7 linked regions of the Homo sapiens genome follow. The protein of the gene in region 3 purifies or fractionates together with the protein of the main gene of each other region. This does not show direct contact. Each region holds a gene or a part of one and is shown on either strand. Other genes may lie near its edges. The genes, in order: WDFY1, ARVCF, S1PR2, GAP43, PTER, PALM3 and ARL6IP5.

The links.
Region 1: the proteins of S1PR2 (region 3) and WDFY1 purify together in Homo sapiens (affinity purification with mass spectrometry; 2 studies listed by BioGRID and IntAct, with this or other methods). This does not show direct contact.
Region 2: the proteins of S1PR2 (region 3) and ARVCF purify together in Homo sapiens (affinity purification with mass spectrometry; 2 studies listed by BioGRID and IntAct, with this or other methods). This does not show direct contact.
Region 4: the proteins of S1PR2 (region 3) and GAP43 purify together in Homo sapiens (affinity purification with mass spectrometry; 2 studies listed by BioGRID and IntAct, with this or other methods). This does not show direct contact.
Region 5: the proteins of S1PR2 (region 3) and PTER purify together in Homo sapiens (affinity purification with mass spectrometry; 2 studies listed by BioGRID and IntAct, with this or other methods). This does not show direct contact.
Region 6: the proteins of S1PR2 (region 3) and PALM3 purify together in Homo sapiens (affinity purification with mass spectrometry; 2 studies listed by BioGRID and IntAct, with this or other methods). This does not show direct contact.
Region 7: the proteins of S1PR2 (region 3) and ARL6IP5 purify together in Homo sapiens (affinity purification with mass spectrometry; 2 studies listed by BioGRID and IntAct, with this or other methods). This does not show direct contact.

Annotation. Positions count from the first base shown.
Region 1 is NC_000002.12:223,877,092-223,879,341, forward strand, and holds part of WDFY1 (WD repeat and FYVE domain-containing protein 1), read right to left. Parts: intron 1,640-2,250; coding exon 1,580-1,639; 3' UTR 1-1,579. UniProt on the Homo sapiens protein: Positively regulates TLR3- and TLR4-mediated signaling pathways by bridging the interaction between TLR3 or TLR4 and TICAM1.
Region 2 is NC_000022.11:19,971,820-19,975,325, forward strand, and holds part of ARVCF (splicing regulator ARVCF), read right to left. Parts: intron 2,421-3,506; coding exon 2,293-2,420; intron 1,975-2,292; coding exon 1,824-1,974; intron 1,499-1,823; coding exon 1,300-1,498; intron 1,218-1,299; coding exon 1,106-1,217; intron 1,009-1,105; coding exon 918-1,008; intron 593-917; coding exon 539-592; intron 153-538; coding exon 67-152; intron 1-66. UniProt on the Homo sapiens protein: Contributes to the regulation of alternative splicing of pre-mRNAs.
Region 3 is NC_000019.10:10,224,830-10,228,335, forward strand, and holds part of S1PR2 (sphingosine 1-phosphate receptor 2), read right to left. Parts: intron 119-3,506; 5' UTR 77-118; coding exon 1-76. UniProt on the Homo sapiens protein: Receptor for the lysosphingolipid sphingosine 1-phosphate (S1P). S1P is a bioactive lysophospholipid that elicits diverse physiological effects on most types of cells and tissues.
Region 4 is NC_000003.12:115,717,509-115,719,751, forward strand, and holds part of GAP43 (neuromodulin), read left to right. Parts: intron 1-2,243. UniProt on the Homo sapiens protein: This protein is associated with nerve growth. It is a major component of the motile 'growth cones' that form the tips of elongating axons. Plays a role in axonal and dendritic filopodia induction.
Region 5 is NC_000010.11:16,443,506-16,447,011, reverse strand, and holds part of PTER (N-acetyltaurine hydrolase), read right to left. Parts: intron 1-3,506. UniProt on the Homo sapiens protein: N-acetyltaurine hydrolase that regulates feeding by catalyzing the hydrolysis of N-acetyltaurine into taurine and acetate. N-acetyltaurine has anorexigenic and anti-obesity effects that are dependent on GFRAL receptor and GDF15.
Region 6 is NC_000019.10:14,052,865-14,055,975, forward strand, and holds the end of PALM3 (paralemmin-3), read right to left. Parts: intron 2,562-3,111; coding exon 2,516-2,561; intron 2,363-2,515; coding exon 741-2,362; 3' UTR 503-740; downstream 1-502. UniProt on the Homo sapiens protein: ATP-binding protein, which may act as a adapter in the Toll-like receptor (TLR) signaling.
Region 7 is NC_000003.12:69,101,936-69,104,269, reverse strand, and holds part of ARL6IP5 (PRA1 family protein 3), read right to left. Parts: coding exon 2,214-2,334; intron 1-2,213. UniProt on the Homo sapiens protein: Regulates intracellular concentrations of taurine and glutamate. Negatively modulates SLC1A1/EAAC1 glutamate transport activity by decreasing its affinity for glutamate in a PKC activity-dependent manner.

The sequences.
Region 1 (2,250 bases), on a different chromosome or scaffold from region 3:
TAATGCAGATCATTCCAGTACATGATGTGCGTGACCCCCTTTCCTTTCCTTACGTGTGTCACACAGCCATTAAGACATTTTAGTTTGATCGCCTCCTTAAACCTTTCAGTCCCTCTAAGACATCATTATAAAACAAATTTAGTCCTTTAGTTTTATCATATGGAATGACCCTATTGTCCTGGTATGATCCCAACACAGTGATGCAGTACTGAGGTTTTTTTTTTTTAATCAATATCTATTAGTAAGATTAGCAAAGATACTGTTGCTATTTTTATATTTGTCCTTTAAAAAGGTAGGCCCTTCTCCACTTACTTCCATATCCCTAGAGAAATAGATATATGTACTGTTGTCAAAAAAAATCAAACACACAAATACTGGAATATTAAAAGACAGGCTCCTCATTTCTTCTCTTCCTCATCCTGGTACACAGTGCCCAAAAGCTTTAGAAATGCCATTATGAACAATAGCTTTTGCTAGTTGTTAGGAAAGCAATTTATGAGTTGGGAATTATTGTGGAAGACTTGATGGATGATTATAGCTCTGGGTCACTAACTTCTTTTTATGAAAACATGAATAATACTAGTTATAACTCAAAGTCAAAATAGTGTAAAAGCTGTGGAGTGCTTTTGTAGGGGGTATATTAAATTGCCAGAATATTGCAGAGGCTCATCTTGGAACAAGAAGTAGAATGCTGTTTCAGTTAAGAGGACTGGGCTGTTTCAGGCAACAGACTGATCATTTCGCATCACAGTGGTGGCTGGGTTTTCCATCAGTCATTACTAATGGCAATGAGAAAAAGTCAGGCGGCTTGTGTGACTCCCATGTTAACAGCACCATAAAAAAGTTTTGCCCTAGGAATTTGGGGGAAAGGGAAGAATGCGGACTGCCTTTGTTATTACAGAAATTTCACAACTTACTTAATGACAACCCCGAAAGTTCACCTGTGGCATACTGGCTGGGAAGAGAAACAACTGAAGCAAGCCAATGCTAAGTGCAGATTATGGCACTACCTGAAAATAACAGATCTCTTTAAGAAGTTTATCAATAACTAAGTGTAGAGGATATTCACATACTGCCAAGTCATAGGGAAAGGTCTCTGGTTTCGTAAGTTCCTAATGCCACCCCTCAAGAAAGAGAGAACAAGTCTTCCCTCCCCCAGCTCCTGCTCTGACAACAGCCACAAGAACCCTGGAAGGCCCCCTAGGCTAAGTGAAGTGTCTGTACTTGTGACTGCTTTGAGAAGGTTCTAAGCATTCACTTTTTTGTTTGATTTTTTGTCCCCGCTAAAACTCATTTGCTAGCTCATTCTTTCACTACACATTAGCTGTTCATGGGGAAGTTTTGCTGAAGTAATTCCAGTCTTCAGGGAACCACTATGGACAGACCTTTTCCATATTAGTCCCCATGGGTAAGTTCCACAAATGCCCCAAAACACACCTTTACATTTTCTTTTTAAAAATGTTGATTTGTTTGTAAGTGGCTACTGTCCATTCACGAGACAGCGCTGTGGAGCTGCGTGAGAGGGACTTCATTTGGTGGAGCTGCTGTTCTTAGGTGTGGACGCCGCCCAGCTCTCAGATCAGTGCGGAGAAAACCCAGTCGCCAGACTGCAGCCCACCACAGGTGTCATGTCCCAGATCTACAAGGAAGGAAGAAACGCAGAAAAGGCAGCAGTGATAACCAGGTCTAACGGCAAGAGTCAACACAGACAAACAAACGACTGTTAAACCTGAAAAGGTGTCAAATTAATGAATTTTCTCATTCTCCTCTTTCATAACACCTCCTTAAGATTTATAGAAAGAGGCCAGGTGGCTGGGCACGGTGGCTCACGCCTGTAATCCCAACACTTTGGGAGACCGAGGCGGGTGTAGCACTTGAGCCCAGGAGTTCAAGACCAGCCTGGCCAACGTGGCAAAACCTTGTCTCTACCAAAAAAAATACAGAAATTAGCCTGGTGTGGTGGCACATGCCTGTGGTCCCAGCCACTCAAGAGGCTGAGGTGGGAGGATCACCTGAGCCCAGAAGGCAGAGGTTGCACTGAACCGAGGTCACACCACTACACTACAGTCTGGGTGACAGAGCGAGACCTTGTCTCAAACAAAAAGATTTTCAGAAAGATAAAACAATGTAGTTCACTAAAATGTGAATAAAGCATATAGGTAGTGTCTTTACACATAAAAATTAAATCATAATAATGTTTTAGTATAAATTCAATTTTTTTTTTAGAAAAGCCCATCAGGAATATAGAAT
Region 2 (3,506 bases), on a different chromosome or scaffold from region 3:
GCTCTCCAGCAACCCCTAGACACGGGGCCTCACCGGGGACCTGCCCACAGCCACATGACCACTTACTTTCAAGGGTTCCTTCTCAGAGGCCTCTCCTGCAGAGCTGGCGCCCCGTGGCCTCCGCTCCCTCCGGTCCACCGTGGAGTATCCGTCTGTAGATGGGGTAAGGTGGGGCATGAGGGGCGCTCTGAGGGAGGCCCTGTAGGAGCAGATCTCCCTCTCAGCCCAGACACAGGGGACTCGTGGGACAGGGGCTTTGGGAGACAGCCCCCACCCACCCTGTCCTGGAGATCCAGGCTGGTGCCAGCTCTCACCAACACCCTGCCAACTCTCCAGACTCCCCTCCACTTGTGGGTCAGAGCCCCTGGCTGAGCACTAATCCCTCTCTAGCTGCCCTGTACCTCACCCTCTAAGCACCCCTAAACCAAATATCTCTCCTCCACCCAGCACCATCTACACCCCATAAAACCAGCAGGCCCACTTCAGGCCTTGGTCCCCTCCCGGCACAGAAAACCAACCACACTGCATCTGCACTCACCTGGGCCCAGCGCATCCATGGGGATCACATCCCGGCTGCCAGTTTTCTCGCCCTCTGCAAGGCAGGAGGAGGAGACGGGCTGCATGTGGCAGCCAGGGGGGATCGGGGCAGAGAAGCCCACACAGGGCTGGCCCAGGTAGCCCTAGAGGCTCTCTGTCACTAAGGTGCCCAACCTCTGCCAGCTGGCAGCCTCACCCCAGCTTGACAACAGCGCGGATGCTGTGGGAAGGGAGTAGCCAAGAGGCAGAGGGCAGGGAAAGTGGCCTATGGAAGCCGTCTCAGTGGGAGGCCTGACTCCTCCTTCACCTTCACCCAAGGGTCAGGCAACTGGGGCAGCTGGGGTCGCCACCCTCTAGGCTCCCTAAGCTCCACCACTCACCAAGGCTCTTGTCCACCAGTGGCAGCGTGCTGTCATCGAAGCCCCCAGGACTCAGTGCTCCCTTAGGCCCCTTGGCAGTAGCAGCAGCTGACTGAGACATAAAACACAGACACAGGGTGGGTGAAGCACATGGAGTGGGAATAAGGCAAAGTGAGCAGGGAATGGAAGGAAGGCCAGGGAAGCCGCACCTGGAAGCGCGCCTTGGTCCAACCATCTTTCTGCAAGGTACCACGCAGCTCCTTGTAGCTCCACACTGTCTGCAGCACGTGTGACGCCGCCTTCGCTTCGCGTACCGATTGGCTGTGGGGCCGGGGGCGGGGTCAGTGGTGGCCCCTCCCCCACCTCCGCGGCTCCCCAAGCCACCGACCCCGCCCCTCCACACCTGGAGGCCACGAGAGCCACCAACGCTGGCACCCCGCGTGCCTGCAGGAGCGAGCGCGCGTTATCCAGGCTGTCGGACACGATTTCGTGGATGGTGTTGAGCACCGCCACCACGGTGTCTTCCTCCAGGCAGGCCCCCGGTCGCGGCGGAGCCTGTGCATTGCGCACATTCCGCACAAGCTCAGCCATGGCGTAGCTCCCTGAGGGGCAGGACTAGGTGTCAGAACACACCTCTGCCCCACCTCTCCAGGAAGGAGCAGGGATCCCGCGAGGGCGAGGGGCACTGCCAGGAGAGCCCCTGGAGACCGCCTGTGTGCAGGCGGTCACAGGAGCCCCTGTGAGCAGGGCGCTGAGCTTCAGAGACAGGGCCGGGGGGACTGGAGCTACCTCCAGTTGGGACAGCGCCCAAGCGAGAGGGCCGGGGCCTGGACTCCCAAACCACTCATCCTCCAAGCCCCTCCGATGGGACCCCAAAGCTGCAGGCACAGTTCGGTGCCCAGGCGTGGGCTTTGCAGGCGTCCTCACCGATGAGGTCTTTGTTGCGCCGGTCCAGCGAGAGGTTGCGCAGAGCGATGGCGACGGCGCGCACCACCTTGTCGGTCTCAGACTGCAGCAGTTCCACAAGCACCGGCAGCCCGCGCTCTTTGCGCACTGTGGCGCGGATGTACGTGGCCCACTGCGGAGGCGGGGAGAGGGTTGCTCAGACATACATGCCAGGCACTCTCCCACCTCCAGACGCTGACCGCTCTCTCCAGCTGGACCTTCCTGCTCCCGTGCCCGACAAAGCCCTACCCCAAAAGCTCAACGGCACCTCCACCGAGGTTTTCCCACCGTCCAGGGTGCACGCATTGCCCGCAGCCCATACACCTCTTGGATCCTGGGGTGGTGGTGTGGCCCCTCCTTTCCCCGCCAGCCGAGGCAGGAGCTGCACCAGTGAGGTGCCTGGGATTCCCTCTCTCAGGACTTGCCCACCCTGCCCGACCTGGTCCCTCACCATCCAGTTGCCGGCACTGAGGTTCTGCAGAGCGCCGGCGGCAGCCTCCAGGGTGTTGAAGTTCCGGCTCTCCGTGAGGAGGGAGAGGTAGAGACGTACCACCTCGGGCTGGTACAGCAGCTCAAAGCCTAGGTGCAGGGCAACCGCCACCCACGGTCACCCAGAATCTGCTCTCATCCATCATACCCCTCCCGCTTCCCGCTTCAGAGCTCCCAGGGCGTGGGTGAGCTGGGGCCAGGGATGGGTGTGGATGAGTCACGTAATATTTACTATCAACATATAGTCACCCAAGGGGAAAAGCGTTCCCATTTCACAGAGGAACAAACTGAGGCTCAAATCAGTTGGACCTGCCTGGCAGCAGGAGCATCCAGGAGGCCTGGGGTGGGGAGGGAGGTGTCAACCAGGAACGCTCTCCTAGCAACAAGACCCGCATTTCCCGGTAGGTCCCTGAAGCTATGCATCCTGGCCACGCCCCTGGTAATAGGGCCCACCCTCCCTGGCAACAAGACCAGCATTGGCCAGTAACTGAGAGTTGTATAACCAAGGCCACACCCCTAGCAAGAGGACCTGCTTTCACCAGTAACTGAAGCTGTGCAGAGAGCTACGCCCCCTAGCAACAGGGCCCACCCTCCCCCACTGACAATAGAGCCCACCCTCTGTAAGTCAACTGATGCAGTGCAACCAGGGCAGCTGCCCTAGCAACAGGAGGCACTCTTCCTGGCAACCACTCCAAGTTCCCGGGCAACTGAGGCGCCGTCCTGCTGCTCTGCCCAGTGCTCCAGAAATGAGGGGTCAAAACAGCCTTCCAAGCTTGCCTGTCTCCAAACTGGGGCTTCAGCCTGGCTTGGGTACTACCTCGATCTCCCCTGTACCCACCCAGTGACATTTCATCACACCCTCGCCAGTCCTCATGCCCCATGCTCCCTCTACTCCTGCCCTGCTGGGCTTTCTGCTCCAACACACTCCAAGCACACTCCCCGCTGGGGTATCTGCATCAGCCCTGCTCTGCCTGTAATACTCCCCCACAGCCCTCCTGCGGCTGGAGCCCTCCACCCTGGTGACATGCAGGCTCTTCCAACTGGCTAGGCCCCACCAGGACAGACCTCTCTCTCAAGCCAGATCCCAGCATACAGCCCAATAGGCACTGCCCTGTCCCTGCAGGTGTTCGTCTGGCCCAGCCTCTGAACCTGGATGTGAGCATGCCCGCCTGGCTC
Region 3 (3,506 bases):
CCAGCGTCTCCTTGGTATAATTATAGTGTTCCTGGACCTTGTTGGGGTTCAGGTACTCCGAGTACAAGCTGCCCATGGTGGGGCTCAGAGGCCTGCTGGGGCCATGGGGCTTTCAGAACTGCAGAGAAGACAGACAGACAGACAGACAATAGGTCAGAGCTGTGGCTGCTACCTGGGCTCTGGCCTCGGATGGGCTGAGATTCAATTTCCTGCTCTGTTACTCTTCGAGGAAGGGCCACATGAATTCAGAATCATCATCATCCCCACTTACAGACGGGAAACCCAGAGAGATTAATTCACTTTCCTAAAGTCTCAAATTTAACCAGCGGCAGGGCCAGAGAGACTGGCTCTGCGGCCTCTATAAGCCCTAGGCTACGCTCTTTCTTATTTATTTTATTTATCTATATTTTAAAGACAAGGTCTTGCTCTGTCATTCAGGCTGGAGTGCAGTGGCGCAATCATAGCTCCCTGCAGCCTTGAACTCCTGGGCTCAAGTGATCCTCCCACCTCAGCCTCCCACCTCAGCTTCAGCTACAAGCACATGCCACCACGCCTGGCTAATTTTTTTTTTTTTTTTTTTTTTTTGAGATGGAGTCTCCCTCTGTTGCCAAGGCTGGAGTGCTGCGGCACGGTCTTGGCTCACTGCAACCTCCTCCTCCTGGGTTCAAGTGATTCTCCTGCCTCAGCTTCCTGAGTAGCTGGGATTACGGGCACCTGCCACCAGGCCCAGCTAATTTTTTTTTTATTTTTAGTAGAGACAGGGTTTCACCATGTTGGCCAGCATGGTCTCGAACTTCTGACCTCATGATCCGCCTGCCTCGGCCTCTCAAAGCGCTGGGATTACCAGTGTGAGCCACCGGGCCCAGCCGCCTGGCTAGTTTTTTTGTTTTTTAGAGATTGGGTCTCACTGTGTTGTCCAGGCTGGTCCTGAACTCCTGGCTTCAAGCAATTCTCCTCGGCCTCTCAAAGCAATGAGATTACAGGTATGAACCATGACATCTTGCCTCTTTTAATTTTCATTATTATTTTCTAGAGATAGGGTCTTGCTCTGTCACCCAGGCTGGAGTGCAGTGGCATGATCATAGCTCACAGTTGTCTCTACTCCTGGGCTCAAGTGATCCTCCTGCCTCAGTCTCCTGAGTAGCTACACGCTTTCAAAGGGAAAGAAGCTCCCCCAAATGGCATGAAAAATATAATGTGGACTTCCAGAAACCTTGCCCACCTACCCAGAGAGCAAGCCCTAGGCAGGTCCTGGAGGGTTTGTCTCTTTTCTGGAACACACAGGCGCCTGCGCCCTCATGCTGACCTGGGTCAGGGAGAGTCTCACCACTGATAGCTCCGTGCCCTGCTCATTCATTACCACCCACTAACGCTGGATTTCAGGCTGGGTCTAAGCCTTGAGGCCACGGGTGCTCCCAAGATAAGGTCTTGGGGAGACACCAGGGCGGCCCTGAGATTCAAACATCCCAGAGGTCACACCATCTTCAAGGACACAGACCTTGAAGGCAATCCAGAATTTGCTCCCATTCCACCTCTGAAACACTGGGCAAGTCCCTAGACGCTGTCTCAGCCTGAACCTCCTTATCTGTGCAATAGAGAGAAGAAAGCCCACTTCATGGGGGTGATGGGAAAATCCTTTTAAATGACGCATGAGGCACGTTTAGCTCATAGTAAGCACTCAACAAATACTGCCAAATGTTATTAGCTCCCCTCTTTCCTCCAGTCCTTTGGGAAGGGAAGGGATGTAAGCCAACCAGACGAGATCTCCAACAGCCTGTTCTCATCAGCACCATCTAGCTCTGCCCTGGGACAGAAGGTCCTGCCGGGATGGGCAGGGCGCTGGCACCCCCTCCCCAGCCAGGATGAAATCCAGATGTGAGGCCCCTGGAACAAACAGGGTGGAGTCCTCACTCTGCAGTCACATCCGGTGTGAGGAAGGCGGGATGTAGGGGGAGTCAGGATGGGAGAGACCCCATCTGGGAGGTCCTGGCTGGGAGGATGGGGCAGCTTTGCTGAAGTCATGTGAGCCGTGAAGGGGTGTGCAGCCCCGCCGGGAGGGGGTAAGGCATTTGTTCCATGAAAACCTGAGTCACCCCCCCAACCCCCTCCCATCCCTCCCCTCCACCCTCTTCCATCCCTCCCTCTACCCCCTCCCATCCCCCCCCATCGCCACCCACCAAGGAAAACTGAGCCGTGGTGGGAGGGGGCGGGGAGAGGCGCTCCTCGGCAGAGAGGATGAGAGGCAGACACCATGGCCTTCCCCCAGCTTGGGGGTAGGGTTAGGGGTTGTCAGAGGCGCCAGTGCAGTGTATGCCTTTCATGAAGGGAGAGGAAGTTCCAGCCTTAGCTAAATGGGAGGGAGGGGGGAGAGTAGGGGGAGTCCTCCTCAGGTCCCTAGAAACACGTCTGGCAAGGACTGTGTGCACCGTTCCAGAAAAGTCTGGTTAGGCCAGTTCTCCTGAGCCCAGGAGTGATGGAGGTTTCCGGAGTCACCCAGCCATCTCAGTCCCTGGCCGCCCCCTCCAAGGGGCATCCTGGCCCCTGGCTGGATAGAGGCAGCTGCTCCCCCAGGGCGGAGGGACATCCGTCCTAGTTTGGGAACAGACAAGGGCTTGTGCACGTCCCCGGGGACTGCTGCCCCTCCCAGATAGCCACACAGAGGCCCCTTGTTCCCTTGCTGGACGCAGCCCCGGGCATCTTGATGCCCTCTGCACGCTGCAGCCAGTCCCAGGCAGGCTTGGGCCCAGGCTGCGGCTGGATCAGACACAGCTGATGGGCCGGAAACAGCCCATGCTCTGATTGGCTCATTTTCAATCCAAGGGCACTGAGCAATTTGCCTATTGGCCCGGGCTTTCCATCTTCTGCCTCTGATTGGTCCAGTTGGGGGCGCTCTACGGCCAGCCCTACCGATGGGGTCCTTTATAGGCGACGGGAGCTCAGGCTTTCTGAGGATAGAGTTAATGCTATGTGGACGTCCCTAGGGGGAGTTTGAACCGCAGCCTGACCTCTGGGTCACCCCGACCAGACACCCCCAGGCTGCCCTGGCCTGCTGGGCCCCTCCTGGGGTTCATAAGTGAGAATCAAGGTCCCTTTCCAGGCCTGGGGAGCACGCTGTGCAGTGCAGCCGCCCCCTCTGCTGCTCACCAAGAGATTTGCTGTGGCTTCCTGGATAAATAAGAAATGTGTTTAGGCCGGGCGCAGTGGCTCATGCCTGTAATCCCAGCACTCTGGGAAGCCGAGGCGGGCCTATCACCTGAGATCATGAGTTCAAGACCAGCCTGGCCAACATGGTAAAACCCCCCTCTACTCAAAAAAAAAAAAAAAAAAAAAAAATTAGCCGGGCATGGTGGTGTGCGCCTGTGATCCCAGCTACTTGGGAGACTGAAGCAGGAGAATCGCTTGAACCCGGGAGGCAGAGGTTGCAGTGAGCCAAGATCGCAGCCATTGCACTCCAGCCTGGGTGACAGAGCGAGACTGTCTCAAAACAAAACAAAACAAAACAAAAC
Region 4 (2,243 bases), on a different chromosome or scaffold from region 3:
ATTTTGGCCAAGCTGGTCCCGAACTCCTGACCTCAGGTGATCCACCCATCTCAGCCTCCCAAAGTGCTGGGATTACAGGTGTGAGCCACCGCACCCAGCCTGAATTTTATTGTCTTTTAAAGGTATATTATGAAAGGCTTTAAGGAGAGCAAGGATTTTGCTTTTTTTTTTTTTTTTCTCAGTACCTAGAAGAATGCCTGGCACAGTGCAGGTGTCCAGTAACAACTTATTGAACAAATAAATTAATAAATATTTACATTTAAAATACTTTGAAGCATTTGAGAAAATGAATATATATTGAGGCTCTCTCAATAGAGCTTCATAATTTCCTGTCATAATAAACAGATTTGTGCCAAATTTCGTCTTTTGTCCTAGGACCAGGCAATGGATGACAAGAGAAAGTGGGAGAATTTGGGAGGATTTAGCTTGATTGTATTCCAACAAGGGAACAGAAAGTGTAGCTGCATCTCAGAACCATCTGAATGTTCAAGTTTCTGTTTCTGCATTTTTGAGTTTTATTCCCTTTATTCAACAAACATGCAATTCTCACCTTTCCCAGTCTACTTCCCTTTTTCTCTCATTTCCTAATCTCCCTCTAAGCATACATAATAGCTCCCATGTCTTTATTTTGGAAGGAGAGATTTGAAGTCTTCTCTTGTTCCTATAACTACTATCTTTCTATATGTTTCTGGGTTGTGTAAATCAATATTATGTTTATTTTGCAGTTTGAAAAGGGCACTAAAAACATTGCTTCTTGGAACTGATAAGGATGGTAAACTACCTTGGGCATACTTGTAATATCCAAAGGTTTGAGCAGGGTTAGGGAACCAAGCAAACTCTCCAAAAGAATTCCTAATTGTTTTAGAAGGACTTCACTGAAATAAATCTGGAATCTTTCTTCTGGTAGAAAATTAAATACCTCATTAGCACACCAAAATTTTTGTAATTCCTGAGGAATACTGCTGATGCATAGTGTATTATAATGATCAGAATTGAGTTAGTTTCATGCAAAACTTGGATAGGTGCACTGTGTTCAACAGGTAATTACAGTCACTTTGGAAAGCTATAGCCTTAAAAAAATCTTATAAGTAGTAGTAGGTAGCATCACTAGAATAGCTATATTTTATGAATAGCTTATAGTGAGTTATGAACCCTATAAAATAAGTCAGACTTTAAAACCCTGGTCAAAAGTGAGTATTATAAGGTAAAATTACCCATCGTAGCTGCTTACTTTATTTACCAGACTAGTCTAGTTAGATTCTAAAAACCTAACCTATTTTCAAAAAATAAGCATTTCTGCTACTGAAGAGCTCTAAAAGAATGTTTTTTGATAGGTATTTCAGAGAAGAAATTCCATAAATTTGTTTAATAATGGTGGGTATAAATGTTCAGCTTCATCTGAATGTAAATATGTAGCTGGCTGATTTAAAAGAGACATACATTTTGATGAGCTCTTTTAATGGTCTCCTTAATGACCCCATTTCTCTAATCTCAACATCTATGTACAGTAAAACTATTTTATTTAGTATTCCTAGTTTAATCTCCTCAAAGCATAGCTGTATTATGTTCCTTGCTCAAGTGCTTTCAAGCTATGTCTGTTATCTTCTAATTAAACACAAATTTGTTAGCCTAACAAAATTACATGGACTCCAGTTTACCTTTCCAAGAATAATCAGCACCTAGTAGTTGTTAAGAGGAGGACAAGCAATAACAATAGCTCCATTTTAAGACAGAGGCATCGTCAATATCAGGGATTGAGGAAAAAAAAAAACAGTTAATACAGTAGGCCTGGGACTGCTATCCTTAGAAAGGCTTGTTTGTAAAGTTGACCATTGGCTGGCATCTGGGATCTTGGATTTTGAGAAGATTCTCATCATTCCTTAACTGATAAGAGTGGTTCCAGGTGCCTAAAATCATAGTACAAACAATGTGGTTTATGCTGAACATCTATTTTTCTTCTGGGAGTCTGAATTTTGTACCTGCTTGCTGGAGGGTGCCTACATGACCTATTACCAGTGCAAACTCACTCAGTTAAACTTCCCTAATAGATGACATCTTCCATGTGTTATGGTAATTTATTGCTGAAAGAATTAAGCACATCCTGGGTGACTCCATGGGGAGAAGACTCTTAGAAATTTGTTTGGTTTCCTCCAAACTTTGCCCATGCGCAACTTTCAGCTTTGCTTATTTTGCTTTGTGTTTTTTCGCTGCAATAAATTTTAGTTATGAAGCAGACTGCATGC
Region 5 (3,506 bases), on a different chromosome or scaffold from region 3:
TTCAAGACCAACCTGGCTAACATGGCAAAACCCTGTCTCTACTAAAAATACAAAAATTAGCTGGGCATGGTAGCGCACGCCTGTAATCCCAGCTCCTTGGGAGGCTGAGGCATGAGAATTGCTTGAACCCAGGAGGCAGAGGTTGCAGCAAGCCGAGATTGCACCAATGCACTCTCGCCGAGTCAACAGAGGGAGACCCTGTCTCAAAAAAACAAAACAAAACAAAACAAACAAACAAACAAACAAAAATGTCTTACAATCTTGGTGGTCTATCAAAATAGAAAAGAAAGAATTAAGAAATTAAGCGTTTTGACCTCACCATGGCAACAATAACGAGTAGCAACAGTCCATGAAATGTTTCTAATGCTAAGAAACTGCATATGTTCTTTAATATATATAACAAATCTAACAATTAAATTCAATACACAAATGGGACTATGTAGAGTCTTCATGGAGAACATTTTAAACTTGAACTTCTAACTTGAAATAGTTTGATCTCTCTATCTAACTACACTAACAGGCAAAGAGTGAAAAGATAACACTTGAGAGGAATGATCATCAACAAGGGGCACTGCACCAGCCTGATCAACATGGTGGAAACACGTCTCTAGTAAAAATACAAAAAATTAGCCAGGCATTGTGGTGCACGCCTTTAATCTCAGCTACTCAAGAAGCTGAGGCACAAGAATCACTTGAACCCGGGAGGTGGTGGAGGTTGCAGTTAGCCAAGATCACACTGCTACACTCCAGCCTGGGCGACAGACCAACTCTATCTCAAAAAAAAAAAAAAATGTTGGGGGTGGGGTGGCGTGCATTGCACCTCTATTTGTAAGAGCCTTCTCCCCACCCCCGAACATTCAAGATCAACTATGGTTGCAAGTCAAAGTCTCAGTAATGTCAGTATTGGAAATAGCAAATTCTTTACCACTTATGCACTGAGCTGCTCCGAAATATCTGGCACACAGGAGAAAGAGAAACACTCTTGAAGATGCACTTTACTAAATGATAACGGGGCAAGCTCAAAGCAGCACCAAAGCAAAAGGGAATCATCTATGCCAGGCCTGACACTTATGCAGAAATGTGAGCGAGACTCACAGGCCCAGGACAACTTCTCATCCTAGATATGGAGGCTGAGAGGACTTGGATGGGCTTTGGCCATGTCAGCCCCTCAGGAGGCAGTGTCCTCTGAAGACCACCCAGGAGACAGCATGGCTTCCTTGGTGTCAGCCTGTAGGATCCTTCCTACAACAGCAGGGAATGTTTTCAGAGAAGACATTGGGCAGAAGGCACTAGCCACGCATGGTGCATCAGTGCATCGGAGACAAGTGGCCTCTTTGTAAGTTTCTGTGTTCACCGGATTTGTGCCATGGCTAATAGGCTCTGAAATCAAAGACTGAGCTTGGAGACACTGCAGCCTGAGAGCCTGGGAAATGCTAACTGGGAGAAAGGCACTGACTCATGGAAGTAATAGACATGTCATATGCCAGAGAAGCATAAATAAAAAATGTCTCAAATAATCTAGGCCAAAACTAGGAAAGATACTCTTCCAGCTACTCTTGGATAAGGGTTTCAATAATAATTTTCTTTTTTGTTTTTGAGATGGAATCTCACTCACTCTGTCGCCCAGGCTAGAGTGCAGTGGCACGATCTAGGCTCACTGCAACCTTCGCCTCCCAGGTTCAAGCCATTCTCCTGCCTCAGCCTCCTGAGTAGCTGTGATTACAGGCAGGAGCCACCACGCTCAGCCTCAACAACACTTTTCTACAGAGCGATTGGTAGTTAAAACCATACTCGACTTAATATTGTCTAACATAGGCATGCATACCTCATTTAATGTGTCCCTTATATAGGTATCGAATTTTGCCTCACAGGAGGCCATATATTTCACTCATTTATTCTCCTTTTTAAAAAATAACTTTTATTTAAACTTTTTAATATGGACATTCTCAAAAATTCGCTAATGTAGAGAGTGCAGTGTAGTGAACCCCTACTCATCCATCACACAGCTTCAATAATACATTTCCACTTAAAACAGTTTTAAAGAGAAAAGTGTTTTACAGCCCATTCAAAACCCCAAGTTTTACTTATATACTCTTACATACCCATGTAACAACCCTCTAATATTTCTGACTACCAATTTACTACGTAAGATTCTTTTAAGGATTAAAAAAAACCCTATTATTCTATTCTGAGGGAACATTGTAAAAGCTCGTCAGAAGCAAAGATAGTATGCATTATAGATATGGACAGATAATGTCAAACTGAGGCCTTCTGTGCCTTCACATTCCCCAATATTTCTTTGAATATAAGAGCTTTGCTAGCTGGTTGTGGTGGCTCATGCCTGTGATCCTAGCATTTTGGGAGGCCGAGGTGGGAGGATCACTTGAGCCTTGGAGTTGGAGACGAACCTGGGCAACAGAGTGAGACCCCATCTCTAAAAAAAAATGTTTTTAAATTAACCAGGTGCATCCCTGTGCCAGGAGCCAACCTGGTCTTCCCGAGGGGTAGTGCCCCAGTGAAGACAAAAGCACGAGAATAAAGTTCCCTGTAGGTCCTCTGTCCAAAAAAAAAAAACCAGGCGTGGTATTGAGGTATTGAGCACCTGTAATCCAGCTACTCAGGAGGATCGCTTTAGCCCAGAAGCTCAAGTGAGCTATGATCACCACCACACTCCGGCCTGGGTGACAGAGCAAGACACCGTCTCAAAAAAAAGAAAAGAGGCCGGGTGCGGTGGTTCATGCCTGTAATCCCAGCACTTTGGGAGGCCGAGGCGGGTAGATCACGAGTCAAGAGATTGAGACCATCCCGGCCAACATGCTGAAAATATACTAAAAATATAAAAGTTAGCTGGGCATGGTGGCACGTGCCTATAGTTCCAGCTACTCGGGAGGCTGAGGCAGGAGAATCGCTTGAATTCGGGAGGCAGAGGTTGCAGTCAGCCGAGATCGCGCCAATGCACTCCAGCATGGCAACAGAGCGAGACTCCATCTCAAAAAAAAAAAAAAAAGAAAAAGTTTTTAGCTTCCTAGGCTCACATCTTTTCTCACAGACCTTTCTGTTTTCAGTTGATAGTATCGTGATAATTGTAAGACACAACATATTTAAGCAAGATGAGCACAAGATACCACTTTATAGAAAGAGCAGATAGGACCACAGCATACTCTAGCGATCCTCTGGCCCTTTTTGATGGTACACGTAAGTACATGGACTCATCATAGTAAGTTTCTGATTCGGAGAGGAAATTTTTGGTAAAAATATGTGCGAGTTGTTACAGCAAATATTTGGATGTTTGTCATTCAGACTGCAAGGTACGCTTGATTATGTACATTTTTTTCTTAACTGCTTGATGAACTCTATCCAAGTCATTTAATAATGTTGCTTCCCTTTTTACCTAATTACATAAATGTTTAAAGTCACGAGCATTAAGCTCTCCTCCAAGTAATGTTAGTTAAAAAGAAGTTCCTGAACTGAGGAGATTCTCCAAAGATGTGTAGTCATCACTTGGA
Region 6 (3,111 bases), 3.8 Mb from region 3:
TGAGACCTTATCTCAAAAATAAACAAACTAATAAAAAGCAAAAAAAAAAAAAAAAGAAAAGAAAAAACACTGCATTTGGGCACCATCTCAGCTCCCTTGCATCCAGGTGCAGCATGGACTGAGTTCTTGACAACAGAATGTGGTCAGAAGTGACATATGCCAACACGGGGTCTGGGTGGGGGCTCCCCCACATCCTTTCCTTGCCTATGAGCTGGAACATAACACATGCCTATGATCCAGCTTTGGTCATACCCAAGGGGAAGGTGGAGCAAGAAATGAAAAGGAACCTGAATCCCTGAATGACTGCATGGATAGAACCACTAAGAAAAATAAACTTTTATATTTTTATAGCTACTGTAGCTTTGAGGTCTTTTTGTTACAGCAGCTCAATCTATACTCTCACTGATTCATAATCTTTGACTGTAGCAGGGTTAAGCCTCAAATTTCCCACCAGGAGATGACGCTGTGATTCTGTGCTGACTACACACACATTCAAGCCGTCTTGAGTGCTTTCACATTTTATTTTCAAGTATAAAGGCTTCATCGCAGAAGGAGGCCAGGGTTACAGGCAGTGGGCAAGGGGTCTGGAAGCCCAGGTTTAGGTGGACGTGCAGGCTAGCTGGCTCCCAGGTGCCATGGCCAGTCCTGTGGTCCCTGTCTGTGCCTGGGACCCTCTTCTGGGTGCCAAGAGGCCGAGGTAGCTGTGAGAGGAGCTGGACATGGGGTGGAGGGGCATGGGTTCACATGACCGCACAACACTGGCACGTCTTTTGCTTAGGGCCACTTGCCTCTTCACCCTCGGTGGGGGCAGATGGCTCAGGCTGCCGGGCAGGCGCGTAGGTGGGCACAGGGTGGGCACTGGGGTTGGCGCTGGGCCCCTCCCCCTGAAGCAGTGGCTGGCATTCGGCGGGCTGCTCTGGGGCTGGGGTCTCTGCCAGAAGAGGTGTGGCATCCCCCAAGGGGCCTTGGCCCTCAGCAGCGGTTTGGGGCTTCACTCCTTCCTCCTCCAGGGCTCCTACTGGCTTCTCCTGGGGCTGGGGTCCTTCCTTCTCTGGCCTTGTCTCCGTGTTAGCCTCAAGGGGAGGCCCTGCCTCATTCATCTCCTCTGCCTGGGATTCACTTCCTTCCCTAGACCCTTGTTCTAGATTCAGATCTCCCTCCGTCCCTTGGGTCTTCTCTGTCTCCAATGATTCCTCACCTCCCCTTTTCTCTGCCTCCAGTGTCTCCTCCCCTCCCTTTCTCTCTGCCTCCAGTGGTTCTTTGGTTGCCTCTGGCTCTTCCTCACCTCCTTTCTTCTCTACTCCCAATGGTTCTTCTACCTCCTCCTCCTCTGCCCCTCGCTTTTCCTCATCTCCTTCCTTCTCTGCCCTCAAATGTCCCTCAACTTTTCTCTCTATGCCCAGTGGTTCCTCACCTCCTTCCCTCTCTGTTCCCAGCTTTTCTGCACTTCCTCTGCTCTCCAGCTCCAACTTCTTCTCTCCTCCTTTCCTCTCTACCACTGGTGACATCTCCGCTTCATCCCTCCCTGTCCCTGGCTTTTCCTCACTTCCTATTCCCATGGATTCTTCCGCTTTTCTCTTCTCTGCCTCCCAGGTCTCCTCGCCTCCTCCCGTCTTGGCCCCCTCGGCCCCCAGCGGGCTTTCATCTCCTCTCTCCCTCCCTGCCACCTCGGGCCCTTCCAACCCCTCCACCAGCAGCTCCTCCCACTCTTCACTGAGGGTCACTCTCTCCACCCAAATGAAGGATCCCTCCTCTCCTCCAGAGCCTCCCTGCCCATCACCCTCAGGGCTGCCCTGGGGCACATCTTCCCCTTCTATGGAAGCTGCTGCCTCTAATCTCTCCTGGAGCCTAGGCGAGCTAGTCTGCACGACCTCAGGGACCCTGCCTATCTCCCCCATGGCCTCTGCATCACTGCCACCCACCCCCTCCCAGACCACCTCCACGATGCCCCTGTCCTCCTTCACCCAGGCCGGGAGCTCCAGGCTACCAGCTCCCTTCCTGTCTCCGATGGCTTCCAGCACCACTTCCTCCACCTTAGCCTCCAGCTCGGGGCCCGTGGCCCCTGTGGCACAGTCCTCTGTGGCCCTCAGCCCTTCCCACACCACACTCACCACGCCCCCTCCTTTGGCCTCACCCACCCGCCCTTCGGATGGCACTGCCCTCTGACTTAGCCCCTGCTCTGGAGTGGGGATGGGGCTGGGGCATGGGCCATTGGCTTCTGAGGAGTCTCCTGCTGCCCCGGGGACCTGCCTCGGGCCTGGCAGAAACCCCAAGACATCCTCCCTGGGCTCAGAGGGGGACTCTGGAGGCGTGCCCACTAGTCCAGCCGGCAGGGAGGCTCTCTTGTTCAGATCAGTCTGGCCTGGGGGAGTCAGAGGTGGAGGGGAGAGGACAAAAGGGAAGACAGGGTTAAGATGGAACAAAAGGACTGCCATCCACACTCCCCTTGAGTCACCCTCTCACACCCAGGCTCTGGGGTGACCTGACCCCCAGACCTAGGGGCTCCCACACTTACCTACAGAACCTGCCTCGACAATGGACTGGGAGAGAGGACGGTGACCCTGCAGAGATGGCGGAGACAAGGTCAGGCTGGCCCTCATCCCCACCTCCAGCCTCCCTGCATGCTAGGCTCCCACCCCACCACCCCTAAATACCCTCAGTGGCTCTCTATTACCTTCAGGATCAAACTCCACATTGTACCTCTGCCTTCCTCATCTATCTTATTGCCCTATGTTCCAGGGCCTTGCACACAGTAGGTGCTTAAACAATACTGCATTCCCATAGCCAATCTGTATTAGGGGCCTACTTTGTCAGTTACTGGTTACCATGCACAAGGGACACTTAAGCCTTTTGTTTTTGGCACTTACATTCCAATCAACATAAATACAAATTAATTTTTTTTTTGAGATGGAGTCTTGCTGTGTCGCCCAGGCTGGAGTGCAGTGGCGTAATCTCGGCTCACTGCAACGTTCGCCTCCTGGTTTCAAACGATTTCCCTGTCTCAGCCTCCCTAGTAGCTGGGACTACAGGCACCTGCCAGCATGCCCAGCTAATTTTTGTTTGAGACAGAGTCTCACTCTGTTGCCCAGGCTGGAGTGCAGTGGTGTGATC
Region 7 (2,334 bases), on a different chromosome or scaffold from region 3:
TTTTTTCTGCATTAAAGGAAAATGCTGTATTCAACAGGAAGGACCATTATCTGGAAGCCACACCCTTTCCTTCACACACTGATATCATCACCTTGCAGATGCTACTTAAATGTCCTGAAATTCAGAGTGAATCAACGGGATTCCATCCTACTTAAAAATCAACTTACCCGAGGCTTTCCAGAAAAGAACTCTTGCTCGATTCGGGATTATCTGTATCTTGTTCCCTGCAGGAGCACGTGAGTAAAGTCCACTTTTAAAGTGCCTCCCGGAGGCTTTACCCAAAGTGTTGGGTATAGAATTCTAGATGTAAAAATCTAAGGGCTTTACAGAGTTTCTATAGCCTACCGTTCCCCAAACTTGCTTGATTATTTTACCACAGATTCCCTATCCCCTTTCCTGGACCTCCTCCACCTGAGCCTTAAAGAGACAGGCCTGGGAATCTGTATTTTAAACAGGTAACCCTCTCTCCATATGATCTATACCAGTGGTTTTACAACTTCCATGTACATTCAAATCACCTGGAGAGCCTGTTAAATAGGCAAATTCCTGGTCTCCATCACCCCAAATTCAGACTGTTACAACTGAGGGAAGGCTCCAGAATTCATTATTTTAATAATCACTCCAGATGATTCTGATGTAGGTGGATCTTGGACCCTTATTTTGAAAAACCCTGATGTGGATTCATCTGGAGGATCTCAACCTAGACCACCCGTTAGAAATAGTTGACGAGCTTTCTAAAAACCTAACATCCTTGGGTACCACTGTTGACCCACAAAATAAAGATGTGGCTGGGAAATGTATATTTTTAAAAAGTATCCTGAATGCTTGTCACAATTATCCGTTTGGGAATCACTTATCTAATCTCCTTACTTTAGAGATGAGTGAACTACAGCCCATATAGGATGACTGGTCCAAATCACATGCTGGTTTCCAGCAGGTCTAAGAATAGAAATCAGGACTCTTAACTGTCTACCTCTGATACATTTCGTTACACTGGCCTGTCTCAGGTTCTGATGTGGAAAGGTATTAAAATTAGCAAGCTGTTTGATTAAACAGTATCATTGAAATACTAAGCGTTAAGCACCTACAGAAAACCTGAAGAAAATTCCAAAAATGTGTGAATTTGTTGGCTCAGATATTTTATCCAATAGGGTATGGGATGTATCCATAAATATTCTGGACTTAATCTAACAAAGCCCTAAACAAGCAAATAATTTCATTTAGTGGAATAAGTGCACATGTCAAATGTTATTGAAAGTTAAAGGGATGTGCCTGTCACTTAATATACTAGAATTTTAATCAGATTTCTGCTGATTAGGCTGGGATTTTATTTCTTGTCTATTTCAGGCTTCAAGTGTTTGGAGTCTTAGTAAATAATTCATGTAAAACTTAGAGAATATCTAGATCTCTTCACCAGAATCTGAGTATTTAGTACCTATATTCTGAGCCAATTATTCCTATAGACTTACCAAACTTTTAACACTAGTTATGATCTCCTGAGCAAGTGGAGAATAAATAGTCTACTTCCAAATAATAAATACATTCATTCCTGTGTCAGGACAATAGGAATGGCACTTAAAAATTGAGAATAGACTCTCTTATTAGACAAATCTGGAGTCTAGTGCAGGTTATGCCACATTCCTGCTGTATGACCTGGGATTTGTCTTTGTTCTGTTTACTGTTGTGTCCCCATAAGAATGTATGGCACACAGCTGGGCGAAGTGGCTCACGCCTGTAATCCCAGCACTTGGGGAGTCCAAGGAAGCTAGATCACTCAAGCTTGGGAGTCCGAGATCAGCCTGGGCAACATAGTAAAACCCCGGTCTCTACCCAAAACACAAAAAATTAGCTGGGTGTGCACCTGTGGTCCCAGCTATTCAGGAGGCAGAGGTTGCAGTAAGCCGAGATAACACCACAGCGTGGGTGACAGAGTAGACCCCATCTCAACAACAACAAAAGAATGTATGACACATAGCAGATGCCCCAACAAATATTTGTGGAATTAATGAACTATAAGGCCTTGACCTCATAGTTCTTGACCTCAGTTCTGTGTTATCTGGGTCTAGTTGGATAACAAGTAGAAAGCTGTTTTAGAAAATTCTGACACTTTTGCTGACATGCCAACACATATAAGAAATGGGTTATGGAATTCCCGTTGGATAATTGCTTCTACATTTTTTTGATGATGGAAGAAAAAACTCAAGTTCACTTACACAGCAAAGGAAAAGTAATGCCAAACACAAAGACCATGACTCCTCCAAACATGGAGATAAGGAAATAGCTCGCCAACATGACCACCATAACGAACGTCGTGGGGTAGCGCTTCTTCATCCG